3 linked regions of the Homo sapiens genome follow. The protein of the gene in region 2 purifies or fractionates together with the protein of the main gene of each other region. This does not show direct contact. Each region holds a gene or a part of one and is shown on either strand. Other genes may lie near its edges.

Region 1 (7,184 bases), on a different chromosome or scaffold from region 2:
ACCTTCCCCCAAAGCGACACGGTGACACATGCCCCACACTGAGGGCCACTCTCAGGACAAACAGACACCACAGCAGCCCCATCGGTGCCCAGGGAGGCGCAGGACAGGCGGGCTGCTGGAAGGCGCAGAGCTCACCATCACCGGAGGTATGTAATGGAGAGGACACGGTGGGTGTTAGGAAAGCCTCCCCACCACGATTCTTCCACGTCACTCCAACCTGAGGCAGGCTGGCGCCCACGGCTGCTGGAGAAGCTGCTACAGTGAAAAACCCCTCGGCTTCCCACCTCCTCCCCTTCTCTGGCTCTCAGTCGTTCCCCTTGGAGGGGCGAGGGAGGAATCGCCTAGTGCCGGCTGCAAACTCACTCAGGGGGACGTGGGACACAGCAAAGGCTCAGTGCCCTCCCCGTTCCGTGCCTCCAAGCCAGCAGGAGAGACCTCTCAGAGGCGGGTTCCAGGGATGTGCACAGAGGCCGCCTCCAACCCACGGAAAGGCCGTGCAGGTGTCTCACGCAGGGAACAGTTCCAAGTGGGAGACTGTGTGTGTGAGCACCTGTGTGGACATTTCTCTGTCCAGGTACCCATGTGTCACCACAACAACCGAACACACTCTAGCGCAAAGCTTCTGGGCGCGGGCCTGTTTGAGGCAGGGCTGTCCAGCTACAGTAAGGTCTGTGCGGGGTCATCCCCAGCGGAGCCTGGCTTATCCACGTGGGGACCCCCTGGGTCTAGCCTTCCCCCGGCTCCAGGCAGAGGCTCAATAACCGTTCTGTAATGAGCAGAAGCATGTGTGCATGCCTCTACCAGCTGCTCCATCTCAAACCACCCGGCCGCCTCAGTGAACCTTCTTGGCATGGCTGAGGGTCACAGGAGTCCCTGGGCCACAGCCAGAGAAGGTCAGCAAGGAAGGATGAGTGCCCGAGGCCCAGGGGGCCAGCTCTGGGTAGGTAACACAACCTGCTCCAGCCCAGATGAGTGTGTCAGTATGGCTGGGCAGCCTGATGGACTCTCTTTGGCAGGTTTCGAAAACCGCCACGAGCTTAGACAGGCTGTGAGCAGGGGTGCTTTCGCTCGCCCTGAATAATTTAACAGGAATGATTCCAAAAGAAGTGCATGAGCTTGGCCGGGTGTGGTGGCTCACACCTGTCATCCCAGCACTTTAGGAGGCCAAGGTGGGCAGATCACCTGAGGTCCGGAGTTCGAGACCAGCCTGGCCAACATGGTGAAACCCCATCTCTACTAAAAATACAAAAATTGGCCGGGCGCGGTGGCTCACGCCTGTAATCCCAGCACTTTGGGAGGCCGAGGCGGGCGGATCACAAGGTCAGGAGATGGAGACCATCCTGGCTAACACGGTGAAACCCCGTGTCTACTAAAAATACAAAAAATTAGCCGGGCGTGGTGGCGGGCGCCTGTAGTCCCAGCTACTCGGGAGGCTGAGGCAGGAGAATGGCGTGAACCCGGGAGGCGGAGCTTGCAGTGAGCCGAGATTGTGCCACTGCACTCCAGCCTGGGCGACAGAGCGAGACTCCATCTCCAACAACAACAACAACAACAACAACAACAACAACAACAACAACAACAAAATTAGCCGGGCGTGGTGGTGGTGCATGCCGTAATCCCAGCTATTCAGGAGGCTGAGGCAGGAGAATCGTTTGAACCTGGGAGGCAGAGGTTGCAGTGAGCTGAGATCATGCCATTGCACTCCAGCCTGGGCGACAGAGAGAGACTCCATCTCAAAAAAAAAAAAAGAAGCACGTGAGCCTCAGACAAGCTCCTGTCTCCTGCAACATGCACTCTGGCCCCACCATCCTACACTGGCAGTCGCCTATCACCTGTGAAGACGGCGGGCCTTCCCAGGGCTCCTCCTCGCCCGGTGACACACAACGCAATGGCCTGAGGACAGGCCAGGCTGATCCCCAGCCACACAGCAGCAACCCTGGCCCGTGCTCTGCAGCCCCAAGGTGGCCCTGTCCCACTCGCTTTTTGCCCGCTGCTTGGCAGAGGCAACGCATGGTGGAAGAATGACCGAAATTCTGTGTCTGACATTGAAGAGCCTTTGTTCCCGTGCAGAAAACATCCCACCATGCGCCTCCTCCCTTTCGGGTTTCCTGGCCTCACAGGAGGTCTTTTTGAATCAGGAGGGGAGGGACCCCATCTCTGCCACCGGATCACCGGTCCTTCCAAGGGACCACTGGATCGTGACATGGCAGGGTCAGGATGAAAACCAAATCCCAGAAGTGGCGACCTCTGGGTGGAGGAAGGATCCCCAGGTGCAGGCAATTGGGGGTGCTTGTCTGAGCAGACTTTAAGAGCCATAATTAAAGCAACCACAAGTTACTCTTTTTATTGTTATTTTTTTGAGACAGGGTCTCACTCTGTTGCCTGGGCTAGAGTGCAGTGGTACAATCCTGGCTGCAGCATCTGCGGCTCAAGCCATCTTCCCACCTCAGCCTCCTGAGGAGCTGGGACCATAGGTATGCACCACCATGCCTGGCTAATTTTTTTATTTTTTGTAGAGATGGGGCCTCACTATGTTACCCAGGCTGCTCTCAAACTCCTAGGCTCAAGCGATCCTCCTACCTTGGCCTCTCAAAGTGTTGAGATTACAGGTGTGAGCCACCACACCCGGCCAAATTTATTTTATTTATTTATTTATATTTGAGACTGAGTTTCGTTCTTGTTGCCCAGGCTGGAGAGCAATGGCATGATCTCGGCTCACTGCAACCTCCGCCTCCCAGGTTCAAGCGATTCTCCTGCCTGAGCCTCCTGAGTAGCTGGGATTACAGGCGCCTGCCACCACGCCCGGCTAATTTTTGTATTTTTAGTAGATACGGGGTTTCACCATGTTGGCCAGGCTGGTCTCCAACTCCTGACCTCAGGTGATCCACCTGCGTTGGCCTCCCAAAGTGCTGGGATTACAGGTGTGAGCCACCGCGCCTGGCCAAAATTATTTTTTATGACACACACCTATTAAGATAATCAACTTCTTTCCACCAATTGAATAAATCACCAGACACAGTGGGCCCCAGGCCCCGGGGCTCTCAAACTCTGCGGCAGGCACTCAACGCCACCCGTGCTCTCGGCACTCCTCAGACCGACAATGATCGGCTGCCCGTGGCCAGGCCCTCCTCAGGAAGGCCTCCCACCACCCAGGCACCCACAGACCCGCGGTACGCTGAGTGCACCGTGGTCACCTCTGGAGACCTTGCAACCCGGCAATGCCACGTAGGTTTTGGCCTGGGACAGATTCCTTGATTGTCTTTTCACTTCATTGCCCCAAAAACTCCCCGACAAGGTCGCAGGTGCTAAAGGACTTGGAGGGACCCTGTATTTAACAAGGCGTGCGTGGTTGCTATGGTCAATGAGATGACTGCTGGAGAGCTGGACAATAATCTGATCAGACAAAAGAACAGATGTGGCCTCAAATATTGCAAGAATATATCAGGAGCCTCTGAGGAACACCAGCCAGCCTCCTGCTGCGTAGACAAACTACAACTTCCCAGACAGCTGAGGTGAAAGTGGTGAGTTTAAGAGGAAACCTTTGGGAGGCCAAAGTAGGAGGATCGCTTGAGGGCAGGAGGTCAAGACTATCCTGGGTATCACAGCGAGACTCCTGTCTCTACAAAAAGTAAAAAATTAGCTGGGTGTGGTGGTGCACCTATAGTCCTAGCTACTCAGGAGGCTGAGGTGGGAGGATCGCTTGAGCCCAGGAGGCTGCAGTGAGCTGTGGTTGCACCACTGCACTCCAGCCTGGGTGACAGAGCAAGACCCTGTCTCAGAGAACAAAAGAGGAAGGCTTCAAACATCCAGGACACGGGCTCCGACTGCCTCCTGCAGAGCGAGCCCGCCCCACGCATGTCCCCTGCACCACTCCTTCTCCGCCTACCTCGGCTGGCCTTCTCAGCGCTCAGACCCACGGCTCTTCCTGAACCTGTGGCCCCCCTCACCTGCCGTGATGGTGTCCACCTCCTTGGCTGCCAGCTCCTCCACGTCCGACCTCTTCCTCAGCTCAAACCTCCGGGATAAACCTTCTCGGGGTTTCCATAATTCCTGGATCAAGAGGGGCTTCTCACTGTCCCCAAACACCCGAAAGCACCGGGCCTGCCACCGCTGCCCAGCATCGCCGGCTTGGCCCACCACGTCACACAGCACGTACTGGCCGGCCTGCCTGGGGTCCAGGGCGTACCGCTCCAGCGCCTCCTTCACCAGCTCACGGGCGCTGGAGGTGCCGGTGGCCAGGACGCTCTTGTAGTGGGTTCCTGTGCAGACACTGTCCCCAAACACCTTCAGGACACCAGGGGCCGACAGCTGGGTGGAGAGCTCGGCGGGGTCATCGCTGGCGCCCAGGCTGGAGAAGGTGGAGTCCAGGTCCCGGTACTTGTAGCTCAGCGTCCGGGACAGCATGCTGGACAACAGCTGGCTCTGCCGCTTCAGTTTGCTCTTGGTGGGCGGGGACATGATGAAGTGCGTCCCATAAAACATGGTGGGTGAGGCTTCATGGATGAGGACTGTGGGCTTCAGCCAAAGGATGTGGGGAGGCCGTGACCTGGGTGAAAAAGTGAGAGAGGTTAGCGCCAACCATCGTGACCACCAAGAGCAAATGAGGCCACAGGCGGTGACTCCTGCCCGTCATCCCAGCGCTTTAGAAGGCCAAGGTGGGAGGACGGCTTGAGCCCGGGAGTTCCAGACCAGCCTGGGAAACATAGTAAGGCCCCGGCTCTACAAAAAATTTAAAAATTAGCCAGGCATGGTGGTGTGCACTGTACCCACTGCTCTGAAGGCTGAGGCTGGAGGATGGCTTGAGCCCAGGAGTTCAAGATTGCAGTGAGCTATGATAGTGCCACGGCCCTCCAGCCCGGGCAGCAGAGCAAGACCCCATCTCAAAATCTAATGGACATAACAGGCCGTGGGCATCCTGGCCCCGCAGACCTGACACCAGAGCACCTGAGCAGAGGATGTGGCTGGAGCCTGCAGGGCCACCAGAGACCGAGAGGACTAAACGGGCTGGAGCGCCCTTCAAGGAAAGCCATTACTGGGAAACACAATGAGGTCGCCTAAGTAAGACACGCTCCGCTGCAGGGCTTGGATTTCTGGAAAGTGCTGGGCGCAGCGCCCGTGTGCAGTGAGCATCAAGGAGCGCCCCACCCGGAGCCGGCCCCAGCACCATCACAGCCACAGAAGAGCAGCGGGCAGCCCAAGGGCAAAGCTTCGCCTCTCCGTAAACCTCGTGTCTCCTACCCCACAGGCTGCGACGTGGGAAATGGGTCACAAACACAGTGCAACCAGGAAAACAGGCGAATCGCAGCCACGTTGGCAGAATAGACCATCAGACATTCCAGACACAAACCCCCAGAATCTACCCCTCAGGGCAAGAGACCCGTCCTGGCTTGAAGGAGATACTCCCTGGGATGGCAGCACTGAGTGGCCTCGCAAGCACGGCGGGCACAAAGGGCCCCTCTCGAGCCGGTGCAGGCATGGCCGGAATGCAGGCGTCCCGCCCACCACAGGCCGCGGGTGCCCGGCGCTCCAGGCCACAGAGATGCAGTCTCCTGGGGAAACGGGAAAACAGCCTGGGACGCGTTGGCGTGTCATACAATCACACTTCTAATGTCCGTAGCGTGCCCAGGGCCAGGAGTTCCAGATGGTTTCTCAGTCTCCCTCCAGAACCTCTGTGGGGGCAGGAGGGCAGAGAAAAAGGAAGGCAGGTCTCCGATTTGGAAAAGGTGAGGCTGGACTGCAAGGCAGGAAAATACTGGAAAACTGCGCACACATCTCCCCATTACTGTACCCCACTTCCGTGCTCATGTTCTCACCAAAGACAAAGGTGGCAGACGAGTGAGCCAGGAGGAAAGCCTATTTTCTGGAAAGCTCTGGAAAGAGTGGTCCAGGTCCCAGTGAACACAGCACGGGTCGCCTGCCACTGCGACCGGGGTCAGTACTAAACACCGCAGCAGCCAACTGTCACTGTCCAGGCTTGACTCACTCGTCACGCTGCGGGCGCTGCAAAAGGCTTCTGGAAAGGACGGTGGCTGCCTAGGGCCACAGAAAGCAACCAGGGAACCCCTCCAAAGAAAAGGAGCCACACTGTCCCTTAGGAAACTAAACAGTGGAACCGCCCCAGCCTCCAAAGCTGACACTGCGAACTGGCCTCTTTCTAATATCACCGGGGCGTGGGTCATCTTCTCTGGAGCCTCTCACTGCCCGCCAGAGCTGTCATGGGTGAGTCCTGAAATCAGACCACCACTCGCTTCCTCCAGAACCAGCCCAGGTCAGCCAGCAGCTGTGCTTTCTCCGAGGACCTTGAACTCTTCAGAAATACTTCCGACAGCTTCGCACACCAGAGACTGGGTTCCCAACGCGGACGTCTGCCCTGCGGGGTGGGTGGCTGGCCCTTCTCCTGTTCCTATAGCCCACTGCGGACACTTCACCACGGCAAAGGCTTTCGCTGTGCCTGGCTTTCTGAAGAGGTGAATTTGCTGTAACAGGTCACGGAGTTCCCAGTACAGGTCATAAGCAGATGGAGCCTTGAGGTTCCATCGAGCCAGGCCATAAAGGAGTAAAGGAGCAAAGCCTTTGTTTCTCTTCCTCTGAGGAAGGTGCAACGAGTGGCCTTGTCAAATCCTAAGAAGCTCAGAGCCGGCCGCAGCTTCCCCCACGGACTCATCAAAGGCCTCGGTTTCATTTACAACAAAAGCATTTTCAGACAGTGCTCACATCACAAACGTGCGGCCTGGCCTGTGCACACCACACCAGCGGCTTCCAATCGCCCTCTAGTCTGACCTCAGTCTCCTGTGGTCAGTTTTCAAAGTGAGTACTTGGAATCACAGAACAAAACCCCTCAAAGAGCCTCTCCAGCCGGCACTTATTAACCATCCATGAGAGCTGCACAACCCTGCTCCAAAGCACCTCTCCAGATGCCCCAGGCTTAGAAGCCTCCAGGCAGCACACACTGGCAGAGGGTCGGCCACCACCTTTTCATAGTGCTCATTTCCAACGGGTTCCCCAGGGTGCAAAGGCAAAGTGCAGGTGGTGGATGGTACAGCCTCTGCCACCAGGCAGCTGTGGCTCAGGAAACCTCTGCCTCCGGAGATGAAGTCTGAATGCTGATATAAATACGATACCAAAAACTGGGGAAGCCCCCTCCAGGCAGGAGAAAGCCCATATCACAGAAAAGTCATGAAGCA
Region 2 (7,131 bases):
AGCCCTTGGCCCACAGTGAACGAGGGGTGTAGACTAGGCAAGGGCCCCACATTGCTAGGCATGAACTCTGCTAGAAACCTCATACGCATCCTCTCAACGTGGGTGCCTCCCCAAGGTAGGTACTGCTGTTACCCCACCCTACAGATGAGGAAGACGGGTCACTTGCCGAAGGTTAGCAGGCCAGGTAGAGAAACCCTCCCCAGGAACCGAAAGTCCTTAGGACCCTGTGATGGCATTCTAGTGTCCCAGGAACACAATCAACAGGGATGACTAGGTGGTTGATATCATTTCCAGACTCTAGAGCAGAAGGGCCAGCACAGCCAGACCCACACAGTCCCATACAGGCCCCATCTCTGAGATCAGGCCATGTCCAGCCCTGATTCTGGGGATGTCTGGCTGGCTGGGGAGGGGGCTGCTAGCCCCATGACTGGGCAGAGGTGGCTGTGCCCAGCTAGATCCTGGAGGCCTCATCCTCCCCCTGCACCAGAGCAGCCACTTGACAGCTGCCCCCGTGCTGGCCTCTGGGCTCTACACCCACCTCTCCGTCCCTCAACACCCGCAGGGTCAAGGCCACCTGGAGCCCTAGTCCTCTCAGCTAACTTCGAAGCAAGCACAGATGCCACCTGCTCATGTGTGCACTGCCCTTCCCTGCACCCACACGCAGAACACCCAGACATCCTCTCTGTGGGACAACTGCTGTAAACCCCTGCGCAGGCAAGGAAGCCGGTCCCAGAGGGGAGGCTGCAGGCCCAGGGTCACCCAGTGAATGCGACACAGGCTCAGCCACCAGGCATGAATCTCTACAGAGCTAAGTCTGTACACCTCTGGCAGTGGGTGACCAGTGGGATGGCAGCACCCCCTCCCCATCACCTCCTTAGAAACAGCTGGGCGGACCTCCCAGGGGCTTTCATGGGAGGCCTCGGAGATGGGGAGGAGGGGACACAGGGCGCTGCCACTGAGGGCCAGCGTGAGGATGAAGTCCAGTGACAGCACACTGGCTGGTGGTGGGAAAATCCGACCCCCCGACCCTCTGAAGTCCCTGCAGATACCCTCAGCCCTTGAGAATCCTCCAGTCCAGGAGCAGGACCACTAACAACATGCGTCAAATGCACTTACAAAGCAGCACCCTGGCTCAGGCTCAGGAGGTGGCACTATCAATCCCATTTTACCAACAAGGGAAACTGAGGCACAGGGAGGTGGAGGGACCAATAAATGGTAGAGTGCGGATGCACAGACCCAGGTCTAGGTGAAGTCCAGCAGGCCACAGCTGCCTTGGGGGTGTGGGCTACGGAGCCTCCATGCTGGGGTCAGGGTGCTTTTTACTGAAGAGTATCCAGTCTCTGTGTCTGGGAAAGAACATGGGACTGGGTGCGCACACACACACACACCCTGTGCCCATGGCCGACCCTTCAGCCAGATATGTGACAGCCCTCAGCTCTTCCTGCCCCTCACACCTACCAGGGCCCCCTCACTGCTGGCCCAGCTAGGCAGCGTCCCCTCCCAGGCACGGGCCCTGTCAGCTCAGGCCATTTCCATTTTAAACCTTCTGAGGAAGCCCTGAACAGTCGCCCACGGAGTCAGCACCAGCTGACAGGTGATGTCTGCGCCTCTCCTCCCGGGGCTGGCGGAAGAGATGCAGTAGCTTTCAACTCCAGAAACTGGAATCTGGAGCCCCTGAGCGCGGCGGCTGCCTCCCCCGCGGCCGCCGGGCAGAGACAGGGTGCCTCAGCCACCTCCCTCCACAGTGGCATCGTGGGTCCCCCCCACAGACAGCCTCCTTCCTAACTCCTGAGCCACCTGGGGAGGGGGATGTGGAGGGGCTGGTTTCCATCCAACCCGAGGGCGTAGGGGCCGCGGTGAGGCAGGGCTGTTCTCAGTCACCCCTCACCTCCGTCCCCAGCCTTGGCTGTATTTATTCACATCAGAGCTCTGGCTTGGGCCTCGGGGGCCTGGCACACCCCAGCTGGGCTGTATTCTCTCAAAACTGCCCACCCTGGAGGGCCTCGAAGACCTCCCGGGGCCACCGGGAAGGCTGTGGCAGCTCCCTGGTGTCCCTGTTCCACAACTTTCTCCTCCTCGGGGAGCTCTGATCAACCACGGTTCCCTGCAGCTGGGCGACAACACTCCCCAGCCTTCCTCCCCGGGGTCTCCAGTGCCCGCGAGGAGGGGCGTGCGCCGCCGGGTCGGGCCGCCTCCTTGTCTTGAGAGCTGGGGGATGGGGGGTGCCCGCCGCCCCCCGCCCAGGCACCATGGTCTCACCGTTCCAGCCGCCAGGTGTACGGCCCCAGCCCCCGCCCGGCTCAGGGCTGACGGTCCACAGCGCGCACAGGGAGGGAAGTTGGAGGCTGCTCATGCCCCCCTTGAAGTCGTTTTAAAAATAAAACCTCGCTCCAACCGTGACTCACGCGGCTGGTGGGGACGGGAGCGCGGCGCCCAGGCCGGCCGGCTGTCCCTGGCCGCGCGCCCTCCTCCGGTTCCCGAGTGCGGGAGCTGGGACCCACATGACCGGCCTGACGCCCCCCACGGGCCAGGCCCCCTCCCTGGGGGGTGCAGCGAGGGCTTGGACTAGAGCTCCAGCTGAGCCCCCGCCCTTTCCAGCCTCGGCTCGGGAGAGCTGAGCCGCCGGCCGCGCACCCCGCGCCTCCCCGCGGCGGGGCCAGCGCCACCGCTACTGGTGCTTGGCTCTTGACTCAGGGACCCCCACCCCAAATCCCAAAGGCTGGGCGTCCCATCTCCCGCCGCTCTGGGGCAAAGCCAGGCTGCCTGACCCCGTGGCGCTTCGGTGCCCCCGGGCCCCCGGCCCCCGCCCCGTCGGCTCTGGCGCCCTGTCCCAGACGCGCGGACCCCGACCCCCGCCCGGTGCAGCCAGCCCTACCTGCGCAGCGGCCGGGGAGGCGGGTCTCCTCGGGAAACTTTGCGGTGACGGCTGGAGCCTCAGGGGTTATTCCAAGGAGCGGGCGGGAACCAGAGCCGGAGGGCGCCCAGGGGGGCCCGGGAGAGGAGCCCCCGGCGCGCGGCAGAGCACGGTGGCGGGCCCGGAGCGGGGGGCGCGCGGCGGCGCATCTGCCCGGCTCGGGCGCCCGGCGGAGCCGCGGGAGGAGTGCGGGGGGTGCGTCCAGCGGCGGGGTGCGTGTGCCCGGGCGGGTGCGCTCGGCGGCGGGGCGGGGACCAGCGGCGGTGCCCGCGCGAGCGGCGGCGGCGAGCAGGGCGCGGGGAACCAGGCTGTGCGGCCGCCTCTCCCCTCGCGGCGGCGGCGGCGGGGGCCGTGCGTGCAGGCGCGGAGCGGGGAGGGAGAGGAGGAGGAGGGGAGGGGGAGGAGGACGGGGGCGCCGCGCTGCGCACTGGCCGGCGGGACCCGGCGCGGGAGGCTGCGCCGCCGCGCGGGGATTCTGGCCCAGCCGGGGAGAAGCGGCCTCCGCGCCCCCCTCCCCCGCCCTCGGCTAAACTGGCTGGGGGAAGGGCGGGTGGGGGAGCCGACCCCTCTGGGGAGTTGGGGGAGGGAGGCTCCCAAAGCCAACCTCCACCGTGGAGGCGGGGGAGAAAGGGGTTCTAGCTCACGCGCCGCCTCCCCAGCACCCTCCTCTCCGCACCCACTCATTCAACCATCCCTCCAGCCATCCATTCATTCATTCATTCATTCATCCGTCCACCCGTGCATTCATTCACAAACAGGTACCCACCGCCTACTCTGCATGCCAAAGTAACCCCTTCCTTCCTGCCTGGCGCCCCTTCCCTGGGCAGACCCTCTCATCCGCCGCGTGCTGTAAACACCCGGGCGCTCCCCAGCAATACCCCTCCCACCTATTAAGGGGGCAGTGCCAGGGTCCCATGCCAGCGCCCCCTCCCATCCCCAGCTGACTGTGACCTTGGCCAAGTTGCTGAACCTCTCCCAGCCTCAGTGTCCTGGATTGTGAAATGGGACCGTTACTACCTAGCTCCAAAGGTTACTGTGAGAGATGAAGAAGACCTTGAATGGGAGGGTGGCTGGCCCAGTGCCTGGCACCTATTAGAGACTGGGAAGATGTTCATGCCTGTGGGTGGCATCCGGGTGGGGTGAGGGAGTGTTTAGACCAGACAGCCTCCTCTTAGCCTGAAAGTCCCCGTGCTCTTGGCATTCGCTGGGACACTAAGTAAGGGACTCTCCCATATACCCAGCCTGGCCTGCCCTGGTCAGACCTCATCACCTTGTCAGTGGCTGCTCTGAGTCCCAAGCCTGCCCAGAGCCCCCACCAGGGCCCCAGTGCTCCTGATCCACCCTCAGACCGCCCACAGTCTGGCTGGGACCCCCTCTGCCGGCCCTGCTCTTTGCTGTCCATCGAGGCCTGGGGGCCACCTCCCCTCTGGGATGCCCTCCCAGATCCCCTTGGGGAGGGTCCCCCCTACAGAGACTCCAGCACCTCTCCCCCTCCTTTCCCTGTGCAAACCCAGCCCTCTTGCGCCCAGTCCGGGAACAGACTGGGGCCTAGCCTGAGGCCGCCGCCTCTGGCCTCTGTGCGCTCTGCATGCGCCTGTCTTTGCCCTTCCTGCCTCTCCCTCCTCACTTCACCCTTCTAATTTCCCTCCCCTTAACTCCCTTTCTTCTTTCTCCCAATTTCTACTCAATTCACCAAACAGCTATTTTTTCCTCCCAATTTTTATTTATTGCCCAAACAGCATTATACCAACAATAAAAGAAAGAAAAATCACCCACAATGCCACCGCCCTGTGGCGTCAACAGCTTCCGTTCCTCTGCTCCCTTCCAGGCTTGTCCATGCAGAGACGGCTGTAATTTTTACAGAGCTGTGGTTTCCGTCCCGCCTTCCCAGACCCCCAGATGGACGTGTGGCCCTGGGGCTCTGTCATTCCTCCATCCCAGCACTTGGCGTGTGGCTCAGGAATTATGTTCAAGCCTTCCTCCTCTTCTGAACTAAATGTCTTGAAGGAGAGACCCCTTTCTATCCCTGCCACCCCCACACCAAGCCACAGAGCTGGCACAGAGCGCGGGCACTCAATGCCTCGCAGTGGAATGGATTGTATGATTGTAGCTCTGTTTGACATGTCACACTTAGATATCAAAATGTTATCTTCGAGCCAGCCATGGTGGCTCACACCTGTAATCCCAGAGCTTTGGGGGGCTGTGGTGGGATGATTGCTTGAGACCAGGAGTTTGAGATAAAAAAAATACAAAAAAATAAAAATAATAATTTTTTTGGGGGGGCGGCGTTTCACTCTTGTCGCCCAGGCTGGAGTGCAATGGCACGATCTCAGCTCATGGCAACCTCTGCCTCCCAGGTTCAAGCAATTCTCCTGCCTCAGCCTCCCGAGTAGCTGGAACTACAGGAATGCACCACTACGCCTGGCTAATTTTTGTATTTTTAGCAGAGACGGGGTTTCACTATGTTGGCCAGGCTGGTCTCAAGCTCCTGACCTCAGGTGATCCACCCAACTCGGCCTCCCAAAGTGCTGGGATTACAGACGTGAGCCACCACACCCGGCAAAAAATAATTTAAAAAAAAAATTAGGCACCTGTAGTCCCAGCTACTCAGGAGGCTGAGGCGAGAGGATCACTTGAGCCCAGGAGGTTGAGGCTGCAGTGAGCTATGATCGTGCCACTACACTCCAGCCTGGGCAACCTTGTCCCTAAAAAACAAACAAAAATCATCTTCATAATTGTGGTTTTAACAGCTGCACGATATTCCACAAAGCTGATGGAATAACCCGCTCAGCCATGCCTGGTGGCTGTGCACAGTTCGGGGGATATGGCTGGGAGTCCACTGTGTGCCAGGTGCTGTTTAGGGCACCAGGGACCAGAAGTGAATCGGGCCCTGCTGGATCTCGCCCTGGCAAAGCTGAAATTCCAGCATGGGGGCTGGGCACCTAGACAGTTATGGCTTAGCAAGATCTTGCTGAAGCAGGCATTACCTCGTGACCCCAAGACAGAGGGCCAAGTCGATTTTGACATCAGCTTCCTCAGGGAGGTGCCTCTTGACCTGGGTCTTGGAGGGGCAGGAGGGATGTTCTTGCAGACAGCAGAAGCTCACAGTTGCTGTGACGTGAAACAGCCTTGGCTTTGAGGCTCAGGAATTCTTGGTTAGAGTGGGGGACAGAAGCTGGGGGGCGGATAGTGGAAGATGAGGTGGCTGGTGTCAGCCAGGATGGGTGTGCAGGGTCTTAGACAAACCTGGAGTGCCTCTTCTTTATCTTGGAAGGAGTAGGGCACCACGAGGGAGTGTCATTCCAGGAAGGGGACAGTGGGCTCTGAGAGTCAGAAAGATCACTGTTCAGTCAACAAACCCTTGCCGAGCCCCTGGGAGCTGTGGGCTCCAGGAGGACACAGGTGACTGGTAAAGGCAGTGTGGCCTTGGGCTGGAGGACTGAGCTAGTCCCTGCTGGGCACTCATGGGGGATGCACTCAGCCGCAAGGGCAGCTCAAGTCACCTGGCGATGATTTGTAGGTTCAACCTTGAGCTCACCAAGCCCCAGCTTCCCGGCTCCCAGAGGGGCAGTAACCCACACAGCCTGGTGGGGTGGGCCTTACCACCGGGCAGCCAAGGTCACCCTGGCCCTGCCCGAAGCATCCTTACCTCTCCAGCTGCCATCTACCCTCTCTGGAGCCCCTAAATCTGGGTCCTGCTCGCCATCCTGCAACTCACCAGCCATCGGCCCTGGGCACCATCCCAGCCTTGCTGTGCCTCCATTTCCTTATCTTAACAAGGCCATCTCAGACCTCCCAGGGCTAGCGAGAGTCCAGTGAGGTCCCAGGAGGAAAGTGCTTCGTATACAGTGAAGTATACAAAGTATACAATATGACTCACCATTATTAGACTGTGGTCAACTAAAGCTGGGCCACCCCTGGCTTCACTTGGGCCTGTTCTCAGCTGGGGGCAGGGGAAGGAGGTGACTTGACTCAAGGGAGGAACAGGGTCTTCCTCACTGGGGGGTGGGGTCTGTGGTCATCATCAGGGACCCTTAGCCCCAGGCTCTGTGCTGGGCATCCAGGCATGAAGCCATCCCAGGGCAGTGGTCAGGGGTTGGCACCAAGGCAAGGACAAATTGCAGATGTTCAGAGGGCACAACCCTGGCCTCAGCCTTCCCCACAGGCCCCAGCCTGGGTATCACCTCCAAGGAGGGGTGGACTCCTAGCTCGGGGCC
Region 3 (8,041 bases), on a different chromosome or scaffold from region 2:
CCTTGTCAGCATCCATCACGGTGACCATCCCCACAGGGCTGTTGGGCTGCAAGTTTTCTTTCACATAAAAGGTGAAGACGTCCTGCATAAACTTAGGGTCATTGTCATTTTTATCAGCCACCTGCACAATCACCGTAGTGCTGCCCTGCAGCACGGGGATGCCTTTGTCTTTGGCGTTAACTTTAAACTCATACCTGTCAGTCTGCTCGCGGTCCAGCACGGTATTGACCAGGATGTCCCCAGAATCGGGATCGATGGCAAAGATCCCCATCACAGAGGAGTCCAGCGAGTAGGCGATCTCGGCGTTCTTACCGCTGTCTGCGTCTGTCGCCAGCACCGTGGCCACCCTCTCGCCCGGGATGTTGTTCTCAGGGAAGTAAACCTCCACCACCGACTGGCCGAACATGGGCGGGTTGTCGTTGGTGTCTCCCACCTTGACAATCAGGGAGTTGTTGCTCGAGAGGCTGGGGCTGCCTGAGTCCACCGCCACGATGACCACGTTGAACTCCCGGGTGGCCTCATAGTCCAGAGGGGTCGAGGTGTGCAAGAAGTACTTTTTCTTGTTCTGGTCGCCCTCGGTGTCGCTGGCTGGCTTGAGCTGGAAGGGCACGTCGCCCACCACGGTGCAGGTGACCACCCCGTTCTCGCCTTGGTCTCGGTCGGACACCTGCACCAGAGCGATGGGGGTGTCGACCAGAACGTCCTCGGCCACGTTGGCCACCCCGTCCTTGAGGGGGATGCGCCCAATCTTGCGGATTTCAATGGACGGCACGTTGTCGTTCTCGTCTTTGATGTTAAGGACCACGGTGGCCTTGTCGGTCTTGGGGGGCTGCCCGCGGTCGCGGGCCATGACCGTGAAGCGCAGCTGGTTCACCTCCTCGCGGTCGATCCGGTGCAGGACGCTGAGCCAGCCGGACGTCTCGTCAAGGCGCAGCAGCCGCCTCACCGACTCGGTGGCCGCCCCGAACACGTATTCGATCTGCCCGTTGACCCCCACGTCCAAGTCGGCTGCGCGCAGTTGCAGGATGGGGGTCCCCGGGGCGCTGTTCTCAGCCAAGTCGGCCTCGTACACGCTCTTCTCGAAGCGGGGGCTGTTGTCGTTCACGTCGGTGATGAGGACCCGTAGGATGGCCTGCGAGGAGCGAGGCGGGTCGCCGCCGTCGCGCACTCGCAGGGTCAGCTCGTAGGAGTCGCGCTGCTCGCGGTCCAGCGCCCCCTTCACGATCAGCTGCGGCTGCTTCTCGCCGTCCGGGGTGTCCGCCACCTGCAGCTCGAACACGCTGCTGCGGCCGCCGGGGTTGGTGCCGCCGCCGCCCTCTGATGCGTCCAGCCGCCGCTTGGAGCCTCCCGAGCCGCCGCCGCTCGCGCCGTTCCCGCCGCCCCCGGGGTAGGGGGCGCTGTCGGCCGCCCCGGCGCGCCGGCTCTCGCCGCCGCTGCCGCCGCCTCCGGGCTCCTGGAGCAGCTCGTAGCGCTCGATGCCGTTGCGGCCGAAGTCGCGGTCGGTGGCTGTGGGCAGCAGGTAAAGTGTGCCCACCGGCCGATTCTCCTCCACCGTGAGCGTGAGCACGGGCGACGGGAAGGTGGGCGTGTTGTCGTTGATGTCAAGCACGATGACCTGACCCTCAAACAGGTCCACCCAGCTCTGCGAGGGCCCGATCACCGACACCTCGAAGTCCAGGAAGCACTCGTTCTCGTCGAAGATCATCTGACACTGGGGCAGCTTCTCGCGGTCGATGCGCCGCTCGCTCGTGCTCAGCTCGCCAGTGAGGTTGTCGATCTTCAGGTACTCGGAACCGGACTCCAGGCTGAAAGTCACCTCACCCGATCCGGTCACGATGCCCAGGTCTGAAGCCACGTTGCCGATGCGGACGTCGGCGGGGCCCTCCTCGGCCAGCCGGTACCGGAGGAGCTGCTTGGCGGCCGCCAGGCTGAGCGAGAGCGGCAGGAGGAGGCAGCAGCCCAAGCACCAGCCGCGCGCCCATCCCGCGGTCCGCATCCTCAGCATCTTCTCCTGCTGCTGCTGCTACTGCTCCTTCTAACCACAGCCCCCTCGGCGCCCCCCTCCTCCGGGGCCGGCCGCCTGCCCTCCCCCGAGTCCTCTCCCCTCTCCCGGAAAGGAAGGAGCGAGAGGGAGGGGAGGGAGGGGGCAAAAGCGGCGTGGAGAGTTGGCCGGGAATGGGGGTGGGAGGGCAGCGATAGATGCTTCTTTTTTTCCTCCTGCTTCTTCCGAAAGTTATTGTTTCATAATTCATGCAATGGGTGCTAATCGCCCGCTCGCCTGCCGCCGTTCAGTCGCAGTACTCACAGTTCACGGGACACTGCGCGCCGCGGGTTCGGCGCTCCCCCAACCCAGAGTCATCCCCTCAGCGGGCGGAGAATCCCCGGCTCTAGTCCCCGCTCTGTCGGAAGGGGCCAGAACCGCTCCGGCAGACGGGCAGTGGGGCTGGGAAGAGGTGGGGAATGAGCCTGCAGCCTCCCCCGCCTGCCAGCCCGCTGGTCTTTGCTGCTACTCGAGTTGAGTCCAATTCACGTTCCAGGCACTCACTCCAAACCCAGGCTCTGCTCCGGCTCCGGCCACCCAGACAAACGTGAGTCGCTTCCTGCACCAGGCGCTGGGGCCAGCAACAAGCCAGTCTCAACTCCGACTCTGCTCATGCAGCGGGGGAGCCAGTCAACAGATCGAGAATGAAAAATCCCCCGGCACGTCGCTTCGGGCACGGTGCAGGGGAGACTACTCGCGTCACAGAGCGGTCAGTGTCAGGGTCCCCCCGGCGCGCCAAAGAGAAGCCCGAGCCATCTTCAGAGACGCCCAGAGTCAGTCCCTTCTCACCCCGGAGAGCGCGGGTTTCTCTTTTTTCTTAACAACTCTGCGCAAGGTCATTAGTCACGAAGCAGCCGCCTGAAACCGCAGCAGCCTTTCGCCCACGGGGGCGAAGGCTGAGCAGTGCGCACCGTGCGGTGCCCAAGTTTGGGTTCGCAGCCGCAGAGTCCGTGCCTTTTCTCACCTGCATTCGGCCCGCATGTCGGAGCAGTGGGATCTGCAGCGCTGTGCGCGATTCAGGGAGGAGATTGCAGCCTCTCTCTCCCCGCTCTCTCTCGATCCCTCCCCTCCCTCCCTCCCTTTCTCTCTCCTCCCTCCTCTCTCTCCTCCCTCCTCTCCTTTCCCCTTTCCCCCTCTCCCACTCGCTCTCTTGCACGCTCTCTCTCCTTCCCAATGCAGGGAACTCAAGCTGAACTTGATCCCTTTGCAGTTCAAAGGTGAGCAAACCAGGCTCGGAGCACAGGCGACGTTAGCCGGCGAAAGCGCACGGCCGGGCGTCCCCAACGGCAATTAACAAAGATGCCCAATTCTGTCTGGATTTCCGAAGAAAAGCCAAAGGCTTTCGGGCGGGGGTGGAGGGGGAGGTGGAGTCAGAGACAGCTGCCAAGTAGCTTAAAAAAAAAAATCCAGTTTGCCAAGGGGAGAAAAAGTGTCAGTCGGTTGTGGCCTCGGAAGTGCCCTGGCACGGCTGGTGAATTCCGCAGTTGTCTCGTCCCTTTTCGCGTCTGGGAGAGTCTGGTGCGGGCGCTCCCGCCGCCCCTCGGGCTGCAGCGGCTCGGAGACACTGAACCGCTAGTGGGAATCTCCCGTTCGCTACCCGCGAGCAGGAAACCCGCAAGTTGCCCAAAGTGGTGGTTGCTGCTGGGTGCTCGCTCGCTCACGGATCAGGCTTGTCCCTGACGCTGCTGCTGCAGCGGCGGCGGCAGTAGCAGCCGAGCCGCCGAAACTACACACTAGGAGAGAGCGAGGGAGGAGGGCCCGGGATAAGGAGGCGGGAGGGAGCGTCAGCCAGCCGCCGCGCTCGGGAAAGCCCAGCCTCAGCTCCAGGGGCCGCTCAAAGTGTGCCCAATCCCAGCCAGTCCTCTTTAAGCCAAAGCCCAGTCCCCCTCCCTAGCGAGTACCGCCGTCTTCTCTGGGGGACTTGTTTTCCCTCCCTCGGGCTGGTAAATTTCCTCCTCCCTTGACTAATGCCCAGTTCACGCGTGAGAGCTTTCGGAGCTGGTGTCAGGATAGGTTTCTCCTTCTCCCTCCCTCTCAGACGACGTCCTCCTCCCCCCGGAAAGTGTCTCCGGTTCGCGATTTAGGATCTTGGTTAGGACATGGTTATCGGGGTCCTGGGGAACCTACGAGCGCCCAGAAAGCCACTCTGTTCTGAAAAACCATGACGGGCTGCAGTAGTGAAGAGAGAACATCAAACTCCAGAGAGCTGGAGAAAGATCCTTTTTTGGGAGCTCAGACTTTGGATGGTTGCGGGGGGCAGGGGCGGCGGTGGGTGGAGGGTGAAGGATGTCTGTCTTTGTTTAAATGCTTGACATTCCTGTCGTCGTGCTTGCTTGCGGGGGTAGACCGTGTGTGCGCGCCTGGGGAATAAACACATGTTGGAAACCTCGATATTATTTTCTGAGCAGAAACCTGCAGCCTTTAGTAACTGGCAAAGTGTAGCGTCACCTATCTGGATAAAAGGGAAATAAACTTTAATGGCAACTTTGTGTACCAAAGTGTCCCCAGCTTTCCCATCTCTCCTTTTGACTTTGTGTCCCTTGACTGTCCCTATTTCCTGAAGCAAGGCTTCTCCAATTTTCATTCACGACCACCGCAGCCGGCCTCATCAGATCTCAGGTCTGGTTGTGTTTTTGAACTGAGCCATTTACTCATTTATTTCAGTGGCTGTAAACGAAGAGGCCCGGCTAGGATTAAGACGACTGAGACGGACTGTAGGTATTTGGGGAGAATTTTTACCATCTCGAAAGAGAGAAAGGGCCGCTGCTGGGATTTGCTTAGTCTTCAGCTCGCCTGACGTATCCATACACATTTAAGGGCCTCCCCTCAAAGAAAAATTTAAAGCCGAAAAAATAAAATCTGTCCAGTGTGGGTATTCTTTACGAGACCTGGGTGACGAGGCAGAATGATTTAAACAAGACAAACACCAATAAAGTCAACGAGCAGATGTAGCGCGCGGTTGTTTGGGCGGGCGCAGGAACAGGAATGAGGAGGGAGAGGCGGCAGAGATTTCCAAGCTCTCCCTACAGGGGATCGTAGATGCCCGTTGGATGGAAGTGTGTCTAAGTGTGTGTCAGGGAGCTGGCGAGTATTTTCCAGTCTGTGAAAGTAGCATCACCCCAGGGGTGGTGGCTCCTCCTCCGAGGCCAGGGCAGGGAACCCGGCCTTCCCGCTAACCCTCCCGCTGCTGGCACCCGAACCTCTCAGCTCTGTATCTGCAGCATCAGCGAGAAAAGCCCCGCGCGCAGGCTCAGTGCGCACCGCCGCAGTCTCGAGCCGGGGGCGGGGGTGGGCTCCGCAGCGCCTTCGCGGCCGGCTAAGTGGCAGTAAAGCCAAATCCCTCTTACATTTGGCAAGAACCCGGGTTTATCGGAACGCCTGCCTCTCTCCAAACCTCCGACCCTGGTTCCCCTTTTTCCCAGGTTGGAGGCAAATGGGAGAAGCCGTCTCCACTCCGCGGCCTTGCGCCGTGCATTCCGATGCGCGGCAATATGGTGCAGTGCACTCACTCCCCTCATCGCCTTACTAAGATTTTGCAAACTTCAGGCAGCCGCTTGGGCAGAAACGTTGTGCACTCCCTCTTCCCTCTCCAGACCATAAACTTGAATAAGCCTCTCCGCATCTTCAAAGCATTTGCTCGCGGCTCTGGCGCGCACTCTCCAGGCGCACACTTGAGCGGGGCGCGAAGGAGTGGGCGGCTTTTCCTCAGCGCGCTGCACATTTCTTCCCGGATGACTAGGGAGTTGCAGCGCGTCCTTCACAGTGGAGTGGTTTCCTCTTTGCGAGCGGGAGGAAGTCTCCAGCCCGCCCTCCTCACTCTCATTCCTACCAACTTCGCGGCGGAGCCAAGCCAGCGTGGGAAATGGGTCCGACGTGTGCTGCATGGAGAACAGCGAGGACAGACTGCGGGGGCCAAGAAGCCTGCTGGCTTTGCTCCCACCCCCATCAGTCCCAGGCTCCGACCTTTCTGCCAGAGCAGCAAAGAAGTGGCGGCGGCTTTGCCCTGCAGCGCCGTTCTGGGCAAGCAAAGGAAATGGGCGGGGTAGGGGTACGGGGGAGGTGAGAGGAGCCCTCGGGGCGCCCTTGCGGCGGCTGGAGCTCCCAGTCCTCTTCCGCCCCCTCTCTAGGGGCTGACACTCTCTCCTCTCGCCGGCGCAGAGGATGAATGAAGAGAGAAGCAGTTTCTCCCACCCCCGCCCCATTTCCGCAGTCTTAGAGCCAGTGTCACAAGTGCTCAGCAATTTCATTAAATGGAACCGGGAGACTTAATCCCCCCCGGTACCAGACCTCACCGAGGGAATGTGATATCCGGCTTCGCTCCCACCCACCAACCCCCCCCCCCCCCCCCCCCCGGCTTCTCAGACCCGAGGCTGCATTTATCTACTCAACCTGAGAGGAAAGGGTTCAGAAGGAAATGGGATCGAAAGTGTAACCGCCTGCAATAAATTAAAGAGCCTGCTGCTGCTGCTGCTGCTGCTGCTGCTGCTGCTGCTTTGGCGGCCAGAACTGGAGAGAGAAAATGAGATCAGTGCCCTAAAGCTTGCATCGATCAGAGTGATTAGACGTCATCGCATGTAGGAAGCAAAATGTTTGAGGGAATGTTGAAATGGAGATTTCTGTTTTTTCTTTAGTGGCTTTTTAAAAAAGAACAATAAAAGGAAATACCCCTTTGAAATCAAGATGTAAAAAATGAAATTGATTAAAATATAAATATCATCCCGTGCTAATATGCATTTAATAAAACCTTGACAAACGATTCATTTTCTGTGCCAGAAATCTTACCCTAAACTTAAAATATTCAGTAGATTTTTTTTTTTTAATTTACCTACTAACCTCGCTTGCTTAAACCTGTTTTGCCGTTAAGAAATTTCAGTGGCTGAACTGAAAAATAGCATTCAGGGTCCCTGATGTAGTTCAAGCCTCAAGAAAAGACAGTAAGAGAAGTAACTACAACAAAAGTTTATGGTTAAGAATACAAAGTAGATGCTGGAGATGTGATCTCAGGGGGCCTTTCATTTATAATAGACGCTGTATTCACAATAATATGAGAAAAAGGTTAAATACAGTAAACACGATAGCCAGTTCTGGAAAGATAAAAACAGTTTGACAGAAAAGGAGAAAGTAACTCAAGAACTCCACCAAGGGACAAACAGAGGAAATGACACTCGGATATCTCTAAATCCATTGACCTTTCATCTTTTTAAAAAGGGTCTTCTATCTGTAGACGTGTTTTCTAGGCCTTTATGATCAACCATTTCTCTAACCCCTTTCGCTAAATTTGATACTTCAGTCTTCCTTTTCTAAATAATTACTACAAACGATTGTCCTTTAAACATATATTACTTGAAAGAGTAAACATATCTGTGCATAACTATTCCAAGTATGATTCTGATCCTTGAGACTCTGAGAAACTTTAGATATATTTTACAGCCTTAAATCCATGCTTGTAGTATTAACATGTTTAGTAGACTGAAATGACTAAATTATTCATTGCAATAACAGCCTTTTTGATAGACATTAAAACTCATCAGTTTAAATAAGGAAACCACAGATTTCCTTTTAAGCAGGTAATAACTGCTTGCATCAGTGGTTATTTAATTGGTTTCTAGCCAAGACATAGAATAAGTTGTGCTGTTTAAATCAAGAAATCATATGCAAAGCTATATTTTACAGTGTATCTATAAAAGAAGCACACAGAAACTAAACTAAGTTGATTCATACTATCTACTGGATAACTATAAACATTTCCACAAGGCCGATATGAAAATCTCATTTACAAAAAAAAAAAAAAAAAGAAGAAGCTTTGAAAAATAAAATTTTAAGTGTTTATTAGCTCACACGCTGTCTGGTTTTCAGATTTCAATAGAGTGTTTTAGGTTTTAAAATAACACAGAATAAATGATTTTTACCTTAAGTTTAGCACATATTGACAGTTGATTTTTTATTCATTTTCTAAAGGTTTACATGCCAAAATATGTGCAATATAGCAGAGATTTACAA

Evidence for each region. The genes of interacting proteins can lie anywhere in the genome.
Region 1: the proteins of FLRT1 (region 2) and RADIL purify together in Homo sapiens (affinity purification with mass spectrometry; 2 studies listed by BioGRID and IntAct, with this or other methods). This does not show direct contact.
Region 3: the proteins of FLRT1 (region 2) and PCDH7 purify together in Homo sapiens (affinity purification with mass spectrometry; 2 studies listed by BioGRID and IntAct, with this or other methods). This does not show direct contact.

What each region holds. Positions count from the first base shown.
Region 1 is NC_000007.14:4,873,658-4,880,841, forward strand, and holds part of RADIL (ras-associating and dilute domain-containing protein), read right to left. Parts: intron 4,547-7,184; 5' UTR 4,483-4,546; coding exon 3,948-4,482; intron 1-3,947. UniProt on the Homo sapiens protein: Downstream effector of Rap required for cell adhesion and migration of neural crest precursors during development.
Region 2 is NC_000011.10:64,031,904-64,039,034, reverse strand, and holds the start of FLRT1 (leucine-rich repeat transmembrane protein FLRT1), read right to left. Parts: upstream 3,105-7,131; 5' UTR 2,876-3,104; intron 2,354-2,875; exon of another isoform or gene 2,260-2,353; intron 1-2,259.
Region 3 is NC_000004.12:30,715,387-30,723,427, reverse strand, and holds the start of PCDH7 (protocadherin-7 isoform d precursor), read right to left. Parts: upstream 3,060-8,041; 5' UTR 2,006-3,059; coding exon 1-2,005. Other genes in the region: uncharacterized protein LOC124900844, read left to right, coding at 5,521-6,087.